Regions from separate parts of the Homo sapiens genome. Here region 2 is linked to region 1. Evidence: fine-mapped expression QTL. Tissue or cell type: testis. Region 1 holds a variant in brackets; the other region holds the start of a gene. All regions are shown on one strand. Distances are between the middles of the regions.

Region 1 (8,108 bases):
GAAGTAAGTTGCCAGATTGTGAGAGGGCCTGTGAGATGGTCACATGGCAAGGAACTTCAAGGGGACTCTAGGAGCACAGTGCAACCCCTGGCTGACAGCTGGCAAGAAAAGGGTATCTTATTTCTGCAATGGTAAGAAGCTAGATTTTGCCATCAACATGAGCTTGGAAGAGGATCCTGAGCTGAAGATGAGACAGCAGCCCTGGCTGATACGTTCACTTAGGGTCATAGGACCCTTGTATGACCCTGTATGATCCTGAGTGCAGGATCCAGTTAGGTGTTCCTGGCCTCCTGACCCACAGAAACTGTGGGATAATGTATGTGTGCTATTTTAAGCCACTAGGTGGTACTCTCTTATGCAGCCAAAACAATTGAATATACTGCTCCTTAAAAAGATCCAGTCATTCATTTAACATTTATTGAGATCCTGCTGTGTGTACCACTCCAGAATAGCTTCCTCAGGCTGGAATTTTCCACCGTACTTCCCTTGGTTGGACCTAATTATATTTAAGTGCCTCCTCCTGCATTGTTTGTGCAGTTTACCACAGTCCTAGGAGCTAGACTACCTGGGTTCAAATCCCAGTTCTACTGTTTACTAGCTGTGTGACTACAGGTAGATTATTACTTCTGTGTGCCTGTTTCCTCATTTGTAAAGTGAGAATAATAATGGTGTCTACTCCACTCAAATGAGCTTATTTATTAGTCAGGTAAGGTTATGCTGGGGTAACAAATTAACCATGGAGCCTCACTGGCTTAATGCAATGGAAACATATTTTTCAGTGATGCTGTGGGTTTTCGGGGGCTCTACTTCTTGTAGTTACTAATGGACTCCAGCTGAGCGAGGGTCCTCCAAACTGAGATGCCACCATCTTAACAGATTGCTTAGACAGAGCTGGAGGGTCATTTACTTTCTTGGCCAGAAAGTAATACATGCTACTTCCATTCACAGTCCATGCTGCAAAACCAGTCAAGTGATCTCACGTAACTCAAGCTGGTTGGGAAGAGACAAACAAAGAAGGAGCCCACCCTGTGGAAATCTTTTCATATACAGAGAAGAGCCAGTATACAGGCTGTGGGGAAGGAATTACTGACATGTTCACGAAAGAGTAAGAAGCTCAGTGTGACAGTTGTGTGGTGACTAAGGACAAGAGTTATAGAAGAAATCATTGGAGAGATAGGGAGGGGCAAGATCACACAGAGTGAGCAAAAGCAAGAGAGTGAGAGAGACAGAAAGTGCTGTCTGGGTCACCTCTTAGACTCGTAGCCACACAAAGGGGGGAGCTATCTGTGTTTGTCACTTCTATCCCCCAAGTGCCTAACACACTTGCTGGACACTCAGTAGAACCTCAGACACTTTGTTTACTGAATGAATACATGAATGAGGTGGTGGGGTTGACATACTTGTCTCTCTGAATTTCATTCCCCGGGCCTCTCTCCAAGGTACGGACTGCTTCTTGACCATCACAACGAAGCTTTGGAAACATATTTCAGGGATGATGAAGCAAACATTATCTTGTGTACAAGACAGTTCAGCAGAACATTATCAAGGAAACCACATTCCTATCTTGTAGGCTAAGGATGGAGCTGAAAGATGTGACTGGACTTTAGACTTCCTGCAGGCAGCAACTCTTCCCCACTGCAGCCTCTGCTGGCTGAGAAACAGGGGCCTCTCTCAAGAAGAAGCATATCAGATCTGACCAGAGACTGGCCAGAAAGAACACCCTGCAGACTGCCTGAAGCCCAGGGCTAGGAGGGAGGCTGAAGGAGGGACAATAGCATCTCTGGAAGTCAAAATATTTTCTTTTACCCAGCTGCCAACTTGCAGAGAAGGAAATTAAAGCAAGGCTGCTTTCCTAATTTAGAGCGAGGATATTTTCCATATTTTTGTAGAGATATTTTATTTATGAGACACAAAAGGAACCAGGGGATACAGATAGTAAGAGTGTCTACTGGCCTTTTAATGCACGGTAGGCTGCACATTTCCTTCTTGTGCTTTAGAAATAGGTTCAATAAAAGAAAGTCCAACTTGTGAAATCACACACATCTAATTCTCTTTGAGATTTAAGGCCACAAGTTGTGACCTGAGCTGAGTCACAGCTGGGTCGAAGGGAACTGCCTCATCTCTTCTCCACCCACGACAATGCCCTCTCCATCAAAAAATATCTAACTGTGTTTGTCCCAGATTAACAGCAAGCCTTGGGATGATGTGGGAAAGCGACCTTTGCATTGTTTGTACAGTGTAGTAATGGCGTCCTTGTGTTTCCTCCATCCCAACTGTCTGAAAACACTTTCCAAATTTATTTCAGCTGTGGTTAAGGAATAACAGAATAGAAACATAGCAGCGATTTTGTAGTTTAATGACTCAATCAAGAAAGAAAACATTACCATCGTGCTGTGTTTGACAATTCACTCCAAATCGATTAATTTGATTTTTATAATGAGATTTGGGATAACATTCTGATTCTCCAAATCTTAGAAAGCAGCCATTTCATCCCTCAAATCCAATATAAAGGCTTTACCTGCATGGGATTCAAATTTATAATGTTGTGTGGTAAGGATTCTATGATGCATTTGCTTCCAACTTTTAAACTCAAATACCTATGGTGACACCATCAAAGCTAAAAAGTGTGAGCAAAAACTGGACCTCTGCCAGCACTTTGCTAGACTGTCACAGGCGTTTCCACTAACTGCATGGCTGACTGAAATGGCTTTTAAAAGGTAGTGGCGAGACCCTTGAAAGTACTTGAGTGTATTCTTGTATCTCTCCTCTTGCAGTCTGCCCCATGGCTGAGAAATGCAGTCTGTCCCAGCCAGAAATCTGGGTATCCATCTTTTTACTTTATGATTCCTTTTAGGTGTCTCCCATTAGCATTGGTGGATTTCTCTCTTTCTGCATCCAGTACAGAACTGCAGGATCCAAAGATCACCTGAGCAGAGTGGAAGGTGGTGTTGGAGGAGTAGGGAGACCTCACTATACAGTGAAGTTACGTAACGTGCAAATATATCTACCTTGAATTCAACTATGGGTGTTCTGGAAAAGGTGTGGGTGGGGCGTGTGGAGAGGGAGGATGGAGGGAAAAATGGGAGAATGCCTATGAAAAAACATAATTCAACTATTGTGGTTTTCTGTTGTTGTTGTTGTTCTTTCATTTGTTTGTTTGTTGATACAGGGTCTCACTCTGTCACCCAGGCTGGAGTGCAGTGGCACGATCATGGCTCACTGTAGCCTCAAACTTCTGGGCTCAAGTGATCCTCCTGCCTCAGCCTTCCAAGTAGCTGGGACTACAGGCACTAACCACCATACCTGGCTAACTTTTTGATTTTTTGTAGAGATGGGGTCTCATTATCTTACCCAGGCTGGTGTCATGAACTCCTGGACTCAAGAAATCCCTTTGCCTTGGCCTCTCAAAGTGCTGGGATTACAGGTGTGAGCCACTGAACCCAGCCTGTAATTCAAACATTTGATTACATGCTACATTGCACTCATGAGTGTGTCCCCCTGGGAGTGCACATAACTTTGAAAATGTGATTCCATTAAAGTCATCACAACTGCCTGTTCAGTCGGTGTCTGTCTTTGCGTGCTTCCCACAGACAGCACCTCACTAAGCTAAACTATGAACCGCATTTAGTGTTCGAAGTCATACATTCTTTAAATACAACATGGCCTTCAATTATAAGTCAACTGCTTCGTAGTTGGCTGCCAAAGCAACAGCCATCTTAAACCATGAAATGCCCTTCAGAAGAAAGACATGTGCTAGGAAGATGGAGGAGGGAGCTTGAAGAAACCTGGGTCCCAGGTAAATGTGAAGTCACTATTCCAGTCTCATCTAAATCAGAAAATAATAACTTCCTATCTTTTTCAGCTATGGTTACTTTGAGTTTTTGGATAGATGCGGCTAAACCTCATCCTCATCTACACATTGTTTACATGCAAAATGAATTCCACCTTGAGATATAATATAAGAAGCATGCCCTCTTTGTGGCTGAATATAAACCACAGTGGAACTTTCTCCAAAAAAGGAATATTTACAAAGCTATTCCCTTACCTCCAGGTAAGCAGAAATTATTTAATATTTTATTTTAAAAGAAATCACTGCATTCAATACAATGTATCTTGCTGAGCTTTTCTTGATCGGCATTTTAAGCTCATATGATTAATTTTTCTGACTTTCTGAAGCACATAGACATGAAAACTGAAACTAAGTCACAGATAAACAAGGAGTACACACAAGGATGTATCAAAAGGCAAAGAAAAAAGTATCCTAACACTCAAACAAATATTCATAAACTGTAATTACAGGGGAAAAGGCACAGGATGTT[C/T]CTGCCTGTTTATAAAGATTAACAAACCTTGGCCAAACCCTTCTTCTTTTCCTTATCTCCAGTAATTGCCAAGCAAGTTCAACTGCAAAGCTAAAGAATGTGCCAATCTCTTCTTTCAAGACTTTATTCCTCTTTGTTTTCACTGCTCATTTTCTTCAATACGTCATCACAAGTTCCTTAGACCTACCTTTAGATAAAATGCTTCTGTTTCCTTAACTATAATGAGCTTCATGTAAGGAGCAACACCAACATTTATGAAAAATTTGTCTTCCATTTCTTCTACCAAGTTAAATACCTGGCCCTAAAGTAATCTGGGTGGCCACCTGGTCTGGCCATGTCATTCTTCAGATGCTACAAAGAGACATAGTAAGTGAGCTGGCTTCCCCATCTATCCACGGCAAAGTCAGAACCGGCTTCCAAGCCTAGAACAATCTTCTGACTGCACCACCTTCATCCCTCACGGTTCATCTGTTATCTTTCAGCTTTCTTAATCTTGTTTGCCAGGTCGCCACGCATCACTCATTACTCACTGATCTTCGGGTCTATGATCCTTATAACTGCCCATGCCATTACATACTTTATAAATCAGATACTCTCACTGTCCCTTCCCTTTTCTACAGAACTTACTTGTCTACCTTTTTATCCCTTTAAATAAAAGAATAATGATACCCAATTATTGAGCCCGTTGTTACTGTGTTAACATGGGCTTTGCGTGCAACTCTAATTTTGCCCTCTCAATACTTGTATGAAGCAAAAACCACAGGAGATAAGGAAACTTAGGCTCAGAGAAGATAAGTAACTTGCTAAAGTTCCCAAGACACTCTCATTTTATGCTTCAACCTTCTCTGTAGAGTAGCACTGTCCAATAGAAATGTGATACAAGCCATATATGTAGTTTAAAATGTTCTGGTAGTCAGATAAAAAATGTAAAAATAAGTAGTTGAAACTGACTTTTTAACTATATATTTCATTTAACCCAAATATCCCAAATCGTATTTCAACATGGAATTGATGTAAATAAATAATTATTAATAAGATATTTTACATTGTTACAGCACATCTCAATTTGGACAGTGGATTTTCATTAGAAATACTTGATCTGGACTTAGACTTCATAAAATATATGATTGCAAGAATAGATTCACATACCCAAGTTGTTCCAAACGTACTTAAAACTTTTCCAAAAACTGAACACAGCATCACTTTTTTAAAAGTTTAAATTTCACTTCATTGCAAATTATATTAAATTAAAATGAATTCATCAGTCACATGAGCCATATGTCAGGTGCTCAAAAGCCACATGGTAGTCAGTGGCTACCACGTTGGATAGCACAGTTCTAAATCTATGAATGCATTCTTCCAGACAAACTCAACTATATTTTCCTACCTGAACTCATGCAGACGAGTATGTCTCCTCCTCCTCCTCCTCTTCCTCCTCCTCCTCTTCCTTCTCCTCCTCCTCTTCCTCTTCCTCCTCCTCCATGAGAACAGTTAACCCTGCCCATCTTCCGAGGCCCAGTTCAGATGTCTTTTCCTACACAGAGACTTTCCTGATCCACTCAAAAGGAAGTAAACTTCTCCTTTGAACTTGCAGAGCACTTTTTCTGGGCCTCTTGAATGTCAATGATCATATTTCTCTTTGTAGAGTACACATTTCCTTTCACTCCTGACTCCTGTACTACCATCTTTGGAAACCCATAAAGGCTTACCTCAAAACAATGTAAAAAGTAGCTCCTAAAAATATTTTGTGCATGAATCACTCAAAATGATTTGTGAGGGAAATATTAAAATGACACAAGTCTAAGCCTTTGAAATAAACTATTTACTCTCCACAAACAAAACCAGAAGAGGACAACTTCGGTAAAAAATTATAACCTCTTTGGTATCCTTATATAGGTTGAGAAAGAATATGAAAAAAAAAAAAACTATTACCACACCTCACTTGTTTTAAATTTTATAATAGATACATTGGTTTCACAAATCCAGGGGCCTTTTTGTTTCTCTCTATAGACACAAAGTCTTGTTCTGTCACCCAGGCTGGAGTGCAGTGGCACAATTATAGCTCATTGTAACCCCAAACTCCTGGACTCAAGCTGTCCTCCCACCTCAGCCTCCTGAGTAGCTGGGACTATGGGCACATACCACCACACCAGGCTAATTTTTTGTTTCTTGTAGAGACGAGGTCTCTCTATGTTGCCCACACTGATCTTGAATCCCTGGCCTCAAGCAATCCTCCTGCCACAACCTCCCCCAGTTCTGATATTACAGGCATGAGCCACCACACCCAAACACAAGGGGCATTTTTAAAGTACATGTCTATATATGTTTCTTACAGTAAGGCAGAATGAATACCCACACCAGCCTTCCACAGAAAACAACTAGGGATGTTGGATAATGTATTTTAAAGCCCTATTTAAAATATGCATGAGTGGACAAAAAAGTAAAGAACACTTATGTCTCAAAATAATCAGGAAGAACATTGCAGCCCTACAGCCAGTGCTTGCCTTGAAGTCATTTGTTGAATGTGGTGAATCTAAATTCTGTTTTCCTGACCTCACAGGATTCAGTGGACAAAATGCGAATTCTAGGCTTGCCCATGGTAACAAGTTGAATGGGACAGTCCTTCCCATAAAGCTGGGACTCAGCCAGGCATGGTGGCTCATGCCTCTAACCCCAACACTTTGGGAGGCCTAGGCGGGAGGATTGCTTGATCCCAGGAGTTCGAGACCAGCCTGGGCAACATGATGAGACCCCATTTCCACGAAATATTTAAAAATTAGCTGGATGTGGTAGCACTCACCACAATCATGGCTCACTGCACTCCAGCCTGGGCAACAGAGCAAGACCCTGTCTCAAAACAAACAAACAAAAAAAAACACTCTGGGTCTCTAAAAAGGATGTATCTTTATGGTAAGGGAGAACAGCCCTCTCTCAACCAAAGGCAGGAAAATTTCCTACCTTAAACTTTGCAAGTGAAAACAACTCTTAACACAAATCACAGTAGAATGGATATATTATGGTATATACATAGAATGAAATGCCACAAAGCAACAAGGAGCAATGGACTACAGATGAATGCAACACTGAGGCTGAAACTCACAAATATAACGATAAGCAAAGAATCAGACACAAAAGGGTACACTGTAGATATCCATTTATATAAAGTACAAAAATGGCCAAAGCTGGTGAGACACAGTGGCTCATGCCTGTAATCCAAGCAATTTGGGAAGCCAAGATGGGTGAATCGCTTGAGCCCAGGAATTTGAGACCAGCCTGGCCAACATGGCAAAACCCCATCTCTACTAAAAATACAAAAATTCGCCAGGCTTGGTAGCATGCACCTGTAGTTCCAGCTACTCAGGAGGCTGAGGCAGGAGAATCACTTGAGCCCGAGAGGCAGAGGTTGCAGTGAGCTAAGATTGTGCCACTGCACTCCAGCCTGGGCAACAGAACAAGACTCTGTCTTAAATGAATGAATGAATAAATAAATAAATAAATAAATAAATAAATAAATAAATAAATAAATGGCCAAAGCTAACTGATGGTGGTAGAGGTCAGAATATTAGCAACCTTTGGAGATGGTGGGTTGGAGATCATGATTGGGCACAAGGGAGGTTTGTAGGATTCCAATGATGTTCTATTTCTTGATCAGGGTGCTAGTTATATGACTGTTATTACTTGGTGCAAATTCATGAAGCTGTACATTTATAATTTGTATACTTTTGTGTGTATACATTTCAATATAATAAGAAATGAAACAAAAATGAAACTCAACGAACAGTTTCAAAG
Region 2 (8,108 bases), 200 kb after region 1:
GATCCTTGTCCATTAATTATGAGATGCTAATGGATAAGAAGATAATTTGCAACAAGTGAAATCATCTACAGCCACATGCCTTTTGGTCATAACAGTAATGAGCAGCATCTGTATACTATATTCCAAGTATGTATATGGTTGCTAAGAAAAGCAGAAATGTTCTTAATGATGCAATTAGTTTTAAGCACGAATGTTAGCTAGCTAATCCAAAATGCTGGCTTGCTTTTGTATTTCTCTTTCTCTCAACTTGTACAGATTAATCTGATAATGTGTGCTTCTGAAATACAATGAGAATCCAGCCCCTCCTAAAGACCAAGAGAAATTCAACATTTCAATTTTTGATGCTCTTTCTAATCTTGAGTTCCCTGGTTTGGAGGTAACATCTTGCCCTCTGCCTCGACTTTCCTTTCTACTGCCTATCTTTCTCAAGAAAATGGGCAAAAGACCTAGCAAAATTTGTTAGTTTTTTGTAATCTGCACCCCCAACACCTAACAGCCTCAGTTACTTTGACACAGTAACTAACATTAATAATATGTGATGCTAATAATTCTGATAAATGATGCTTATTTTTCTAAGGCGGTTTACTAAAGCCAAAGTCTAACAGTTATCTCACATTAACACAGCTGAGTATGATCTCAGATGCTATTTTCAAACGGTTTTCCTTGGTTGTGTATTTAGCCTAAATCTCCAGCAATTACATGGTATTTCATTTCATTTCTGTAATGCTAACTGTACTTTAAAATATTAAATTACAACTGATGGAATCTCCCTTCCCTTATGGAAACAGATCCAAGGCAAACCTATAGAGTTTGTGGACCGAAGGGGATAGGGGCTGTTCATTTTTAAAACAATTACTATTCTCTGAAAGTGTGTTATTTTCAAAGCGCCCATCAGTGACAGTTTCCCAATAGGTCAATTCACTATTTTTCTTAACTGGACAGCAAATATTTTAAGGGTATCTGATAGCTCCCTCTGAGTCCCCTATGTATTGTTGATTCTTCACTAAACTACTAATTGTTCTAAATGGAATTTAGGCATCAGCATATTTCCATGATCTTTCACACCCCTACACAGAGATTTTCTTCTTCTCCTAGGTTAAACTAATACTCAGTACCATAGATTTCTGAAATTGCCCCTTCAGGGAAAGAAAAGGTGAAAACTAGAGAATTCTTGTCCCCCCTGCCACCCAAACACACACACACACTCACTCATACAGTCAATGACACCCTCCAAAATAATGTTTCTGAATTCTCTACAGAACAAGATGGCAGACATATTTCAAAATATATTTCATCCAATCGTTACAAACAGCTTAGCAATAGATATTTGAGTTGGAAAAAATATCAACATTGGGTGAAGGGATAAGGTGACCCTTTGAAATTGCCTGCAGCACTAACAGAAAACCAGAACACCATCTCTTTCTCCAGCTCCCACGACTGCTCCAAAGTAGAGCCAACAAGTCCTACAAGACGCACAAGCGGGTGGCCACTAGGGACATCCCATTTCCAGGCACCATTTAGCAAGTAGAAGAGGAAAACCCACACCACGGAAACCCCTTAGTGGGTGCCTTGCTCTGTAAATGTAATGGAATTAAAGGCGGTCTCCTGAAACTGCCTGGGGGCCTCCTCCTTGGGCCGTGGGACGCGCAGCGCTGGTCCCTACCTCGGATTTCCACACGACGTAGGGGTGCCCGCGACTGTCGGGTGGGGACTGGAACTTCCTCTGCTGGAGCCACCTCCTAGGAGAAGCGAAGATGCCATTGGGGCCTCCCCCGGATGAACAGAGGATGCTGGAAGCGCTTCGGCTACTGGCTGGCCCGGCCAGGACAGAAGGCAGGTCCCAGGCCATGCTCTTCTTGAGGCCGCCGCGACCCAGGGGAACCTCATAGTCAAAGTGAAAGCTGCCGGATGGTGACTTCTCCTGCGGGGTGCTGGGTGTGGAGAAGGACGAGCAAAGAGGTCCAGGAGGCGGTAGCCTGGTGGCCCTGGGGGGCGGACCCCGGGAAGAGGACGCCAAGCGAGGGCCGAGACTCTCGGCTGGGAGTGATGGGGAGTAGAGGCGGCCCGCCGTGGCTCCCCGCGCACTGCCCTCCGCGCCCGCCTCGTCGCTCCCGCAGCCGCCGATCAGGGCCGGGTCCAGGCTGCGGGTCTGGCGCAGCTTCCTCTTGGAGAAGCCCTTGGCCGAGGCCGCGCTACTTGAAGCGGGCGAGGAACAGGAGAAGACGCTGTGGAGCAGGCTCTGCGCGGACATCTCGGCGGGGCTGCACCTGAGGACCACCTCCTCCTCCCTCCCTGGACGCTGGTGGCTTTGGGTCGGGAACCGAAAGGGACTCAGGCAAAGGTGCCAGGCGGGGCTGGCCCGGGGTTTGCCCAGGGCAGTGGAGAGCAAAGCCCAGCTCACGCGCCGCCGGTGCGCTCCAAGTGCCCCGGCGGCGGCAGGAGCAGCAGATCCATCACCAGCCTTCTAGGAAAATGGGTCTGGGGACCTCCTGCAGCCGCTAGAACCTTCCTCCGGAGCCCAAGACGCGAAGAGGGTCAGGAAGAGGAGGAGGAAGGTCAGGCGCTCGCTGGGTTCCCAGCTCCAGCCTGCCAGCGCCACTCCCCCTTCCTAGCTGAGGCGGGAGACGCAGCGCTCCTGCTCGCTGGCTCTGGATGGCCTCTAAGACTCCAGCAAGCTCCTCCTTGCGGCCCGAGGACAGTCCCGAGGGCCAGGGAGAAGGCTGCCTGGGCGTGCGCCCAGGGCGCGTCCACCGCGCTCCCGGCGCCGCGAGAACTTCCTCCCGCTCCTGAGCCGGGCGCCTGAGCTGCGCCTCCCTGCACTCTCTCCTTGCCCCGGCGCCCGAGGTTGCGCGCCTGGCCTCCGCTGGGCTGCTGCGCCCACTCTTCCGACTGCAGAGGCTCAAGGGTTGTTCCAAGCTCAAGGTTCCCGCGGGGTCTCTGTCTTGCTGCAGTGTGGGGACACCGAGCGTGCTGCGCCCGGGACCTCCAAAGACTGCGTGCCCACGGTGGGATGGAATTCCCGGCGGCGCTCAGCGCTCTCCGTGGAGGAGGGAGCTCAGGAGACAGCCCCAAGGCCGGGTGTGTGTGTTCCGCCGGAGAGGAACACGCTATTCGCAGCCCAGCCTTGGGCCCAGGGCAGACGCGGAGATGACCCCGTACGCTCGCTCTAGAGGCAGCGGGAAGGGGGCGGCCAGGACGTGTAGAGCTGGAGGAATGCCGGGGCTGGAGCTGGGGCGGAGCCAGGAGCAGGAGAAAGCAGAACGTGAAGAGTTTTCCAGGCGCCAAACCTGCAAGCGGCGAGGAGAGAAGGCAGCTCGCCACTGATACCGGGTCTCCTGGGGAGAAAGTCGTGAGGACGGAAGTGCGGACCTTCTCCCCCGTCTCCCCACCCCCAGATCAAGGGTCGCGCCAGCTCCACTCACGTTTCTGGAAAGGAAGGGAAGTGTCAGATTGCACCCCACCCACTGGTGTCAGATGGGCAGCCGGGGACGATTGCTCTGAAGTTGGAGTTAAATCTCCTGCCTTTTCTCCCCGCGCCCCCCCACCCCGCCCTGTCCCGGCTGTTTTTGTTTTTAAAAAGGAAGGATAGATAGGAAACTGTCTAAAAGCAGTGGCTGCCGATGAATGAGCTGGAGATGGAGACCTACTAAGAAAGTGGAGGGGGAGGAGCCTTTGCCGTGGAAGGGGTCCTGAGCACGTGCGGAAACGTGCTCTAGGAGGAGGGGTGAGTGAGGCCGGGTAGGGGGCAGGCGCCGGGCGCAGCTTCAGCCCAGAGGCTGCAGAGATTGGCGCTCACAAAGCGATCTGTCTCCGCGTCCCGCTCTGGGACGCCTCGGGTCTCAGCGCGGTGGCCACAGTCCTGGGAAGCTGGAGAACGCTGGGGAAATCAATCTTCCCGGCAAGGAGATGAGTCTGAAAGCAGCTTCTCCCGCTGTCGGACCCCTGGAATCTATAAAGCGCAAAGCCTCGCCCTCTTGGAGGGCTTTTTGATGTAACAGTTAAGCTTTGCAATGCAACTTACAACCATCTCAGCAGGGAGCAGACAGAATGTTGGAAATGTCTACTTTGTGTTTGTGTCCTCTTTTATCACTTAGGGATGAAGATAATTTTATATAAATGTAAAGGTGACTCTACCATTTCTTTTATTTTGGAGAAAAAATACAATGAAATTATAAATACAGATGTTGGACACGAACATTCCTCTTGCATATCTACCAGAATTGTCCAAGTTTGATTCTGGAAGACTTCCTTTATTCCCTATGACATATTCAGGGGAAAAGTTAATTTACTTAGACTCTTTGAAAAGCGTGTTTGGTGTTCCTAGGTGTTCAGCTATTTTGGAGGAGGTACGTCATGAAATCTAATTAGGAGAATTCGTTGTCTCCACAAAGGGCGTCGGGCTCCCAGGTCTTGGCTGTACTCGTTTTTTGTAAACGCAGCCGAACAGACTGCACCCTTAGAGATTTTTTTTCCGGTAGCTTTAATGAGCTATCTGCTGTCTGAAGACAGAGTTCGATTCTAGTTTCCCATCCCCCATCGCTGTCCATCTCTTCTCACCCTGAGCTTCTTAAGTATTTTCAGCGGCTGTCAATCAGGTGTGCTGCTGACAGGCACAGTGTTTAAAAAGAGCTCTTGCTCCCCTGCCTAACTACACCCAGGCCAAGTTACATTTGGGGGCTTGTTGGCATTGGCTTTCTTCCCTCCTCATACAAGTCACATTAGAAGTAAAAGTGTGTGGGTCTTGTCTGCCCTTTCTTTAGTAACAAAACTGTAATTTATCACTGGTAATGGAAACACTTAATGTCTCTACCACTGGGATACGAATGCATGGTTATGCCTCATTGCATGGTTATGCCTCAGTGGAGTTTGGCATTCGGGGTAGATGGTTAACAGAGTCACTTCACAGAATCACTTATAACTCAAGGGGGGTGAGCAACTTGATGATTGTATTTGATGATTTATATATTTCTCTAACCCCATATGATAACCATGGGGTAGCAAATGAACCCCTGCCATGACTGTATAGGCTAGTATGAATGCCCCCAGGCACAAGGGCATACATTCTTGCTCATGGGTGTTGGAGAGCCAACCAGCAGAGGGATTCTTCTATTAGCACTCCTAGGGCTTGGAACACACACATGCCAGTTAATTCATCATCTAGTTTCCAAGTGTTCCTGACCCTCCAGGAAACTGGAAACTTGTGTCATTGTTGGGAACAGTGAATAAATTGTTTTAAATATTAATCAAATTAGACTGGGGCTCCTTTTAAAAACTCAGTGTAAGTATGTGTGCTTTTAATACCTGGGGCAGGGGATGTTGATGTTCTTCTAGAAAGACTTTGTAAGAATTTTTTTGGATTTTTTTAAAACTATTTTGATTTTCAACCTGACTGCTATTAGGTTTACCTTGCAGTCATAGTGGCTTATGGTGGATTCATTCATTCCTATTTAAGGCATTCTATTTAACTCTTGTTTGTTATATATTCTCTTTGTTTATATAGACTCAACTCACATTGGCCTTTCTGATCAACTGTCAGGTTATGCCAAATTCAGTTAAGGAAGATCTATGGGTTTTGGTTACCAATTTCAAAAAATGGCTGGTTTTGTTACATTGCTTCCCAGAATCCTTCTTACAATTCATCAGCTAGCTTCAGAAGCATTATAATTGGTAGTCAAGAAATAAATAGTTTTAATGTATATGCTTTCAAAAGCAGGTTTCTAAGACTTTGCTTTGCTTCTCTATTAGGGCATTTGATATTGAAAATAGTGCCTATATTTGTTAATTTTTTCCTCAGAGACAAAGTTAATCAAAGACTTGGGATACCTTTCATTAAAGAGCAGAACATTCTGTTCACTATTCATTCCCAATGATAATTATTGTAGACATCTAGGATTTAAAAAACATCTTATGCTATCTATTCCATCTGGTCATGGCACAAGAATATTCCAATGGAAGTTCTAGAATCCTTGGACTGACATCAAGCTATCCTCTTATCAGAGATCCTAGAAAACTCATCAGTATTCTTTCTATTCCCTTGAGAGACTGTTCTACAAACACACACATCTTACTATCAAAGGATATATTCTGATGCTTAACCTAAATTTCCTTTTCCTTAACTTTATCCCTTGAAGCTTTTCATATCTCCAGCCAAAATTCCTCTTTATCCTTGGTGTTTAGACCCCAAAGCTATTTGTAGATTTTTATCATGCCCTTTGGGTCTGACTCTGTGGTTTGGCTACACTATAAAGTTCATATTTTGCTTTAAAACCATCACTGTAGATGATCTTTTCTGGACTCCCTCCAGTTGCTTTTGTTTTTCAGTCCTGAGGTCCAATATTCCAGGTTAGGGCATCCTATTTTGCTCTTGTTTGTTATATAATCCCATTGCTTAAACAGTCTCAAATCACACTGAACTTTCTGATTGAGTGTCATATAATATTTCAGACTTCTATCTGATTGGCTCCCAACTTTTAGCATTGTTGATTTTCATTTCATCCTGCCCATGTCTCTCAAACTGATCATGATCCCCCGATATCATTTCTATGTTCTTAGTGGGTAAACAGTTCACAGCATCTCACTTGCCCATAAAAGTCCGGGTTCTGTCTCCAAGCTCCTGAAACATGAAAAAGAAGCATCATTTAAATCTGTGTGACATGCATGGAATACATGAGAGATATGTGGAGAAATTTTACAAGGCTTAAGAATGCAAATTGCATTAAATAGCCCAACTTCCCCATGCCTGAACTAAAAATGTTTCTTTAGATTCCTATGCCAGCTGCCAAAGCACTTAAATTACAATCGACAAACGTCAGTGGAGGTAAACCTAGAGTCTTTGAGTACAGGAAATTTTTGTCTTCTATTACATTTATATACCAACAGGCAAGGTTTTTGGCTCAATATTTTGGATCAATTTCACATAGCCCAGAATTGGAACCATGAACCCTCCAGGTACACACTTGAGGTTTTAATATTCCTCTAGTTGATATCCAGACCTGTGAAATTTTTTTTTCTGACGTTATATTCGGAAACCCAAATGACTATTCTTATTCATCTTTCCCAGTTTTTCCCCACTCTGTGTGCCTAATTTTGCCATTTCTCACCAATTGTGACCTTAAAAAATTAAATTCAGTAAAAGAAAACGACTGTATCTGTGTCAGCATCTGCATTGAACACACGAACATCCACTTGCAACATTGTCCATTTTCTCATTTTCTGTGCAAATATTAGCAACATGTTCTATGTTTTCTAGTGTTTAATATTTATCTTCTAGACTTAAAAAAGCAGGAGTTTGGCATAGGCACATTTTCTGCCTTTTCGCTTACATGTTTATTTCTTGAGCAGGTATGAGTACACTATTTTTTTCTTCTTTTTTTTTTTTTTTTAAATACAGTTTCACTCTGTGGCCCAGGCTGGAGGGCAGTGGCGCCATCTTGGCTCACTGCAATCTCCACCTCCCGGGTTCAAGCGATTCTCCTTCCTCAGCCTCCTCAGTAGCTGGGATCACAGGCACCTGCCACCATGCCCGGCTAATTTTTGTATTTTTAGTAGAGATGGGTTTTCACCATGTTGGCCAGCCTGGTCTCAAAGTCCTGGCCTCAAGTGATCCTCCTGCCTCGGCCTCCCAAAGTGCTGGGATTACAGGCATGAGCCACCACGCCTGGTCGGGGTACACTATTTCTAAATGTTAACCATCCTATTTTCACTTGCCCAAGTTAGCAGGGCAAGTGAAAAACAAGGCTGTATAAGAATCTTAAACCAAGTTGCAGTGTAGATGTGCTCAGCAGGATCACAGGGGCAACTCCTGAACCAAACAGTGGTTACTCTACCTGTGGCATGTGAACGAATCTTCCAATATCAAATCCTAAATGTATGACCATCATCCCTTTTGCTTTAGGCTTTGAATCTTGATCTCAGGAGACTTTTAGAAATATAAATTGGCTGAAAGCCAAATTCAGTTTTGGTTGATAAACATTTTTGAACACACACTGTGTGCTAGTGGCATTCTTTGTTCTATCTTTGTGGTGAAAGTGTACTTAGAATCTCAAAATAAGTTAAATTTATCTGAACCTGGTATATAATTCAGCTGTACTAGCTACTTAAACTAATTT

Direction of the effects. Positions count from the first base shown, and alleles are read on the strand shown. Sizes are in standard deviations (SD) of each study's normalised expression.
As copies of T replace C in region 1, the expression in testis of the gene that starts at base 3,343 in region 2 goes down (moderate effect, 0.55 SD a copy in GTEx).

Evidence for each region. PIP is the estimated chance that this variant, and not a neighbour inherited with it, causes the effect.
Region 2: it holds the start of ARHGAP6, and the variant in region 1 is fine-mapped to the expression of ARHGAP6 in testis (GTEx, PIP above 0.99). The same link has a PIP of 0.9 or more in tibial nerve.

What each region holds. Positions count from the first base shown.
Region 1 is chrX:11,460,195-11,468,302 of GRCh38, forward strand. The region is part of intron 1 of ARHGAP6 (Rho GTPase activating protein 6); the gene reads right to left. Among named protein-coding and RNA genes, the nearest start is that of MIR548AX, 150 kb to the left of the region's middle. RefSeq lists an enhancer at 2,017-2,161 and a cis regulatory region at 2,084-2,094. The variant C/T (reference allele first, on the strand shown) is at 4,320.
Region 2 is chrX:11,662,578-11,670,685 of GRCh38, forward strand. ARHGAP6 (Rho GTPase activating protein 6) reads right to left here and starts at 3,343. Exons shown (of 13, transcript NM_013427.3): 1 at 1,664-3,343. The coding sequence starts at 2,251.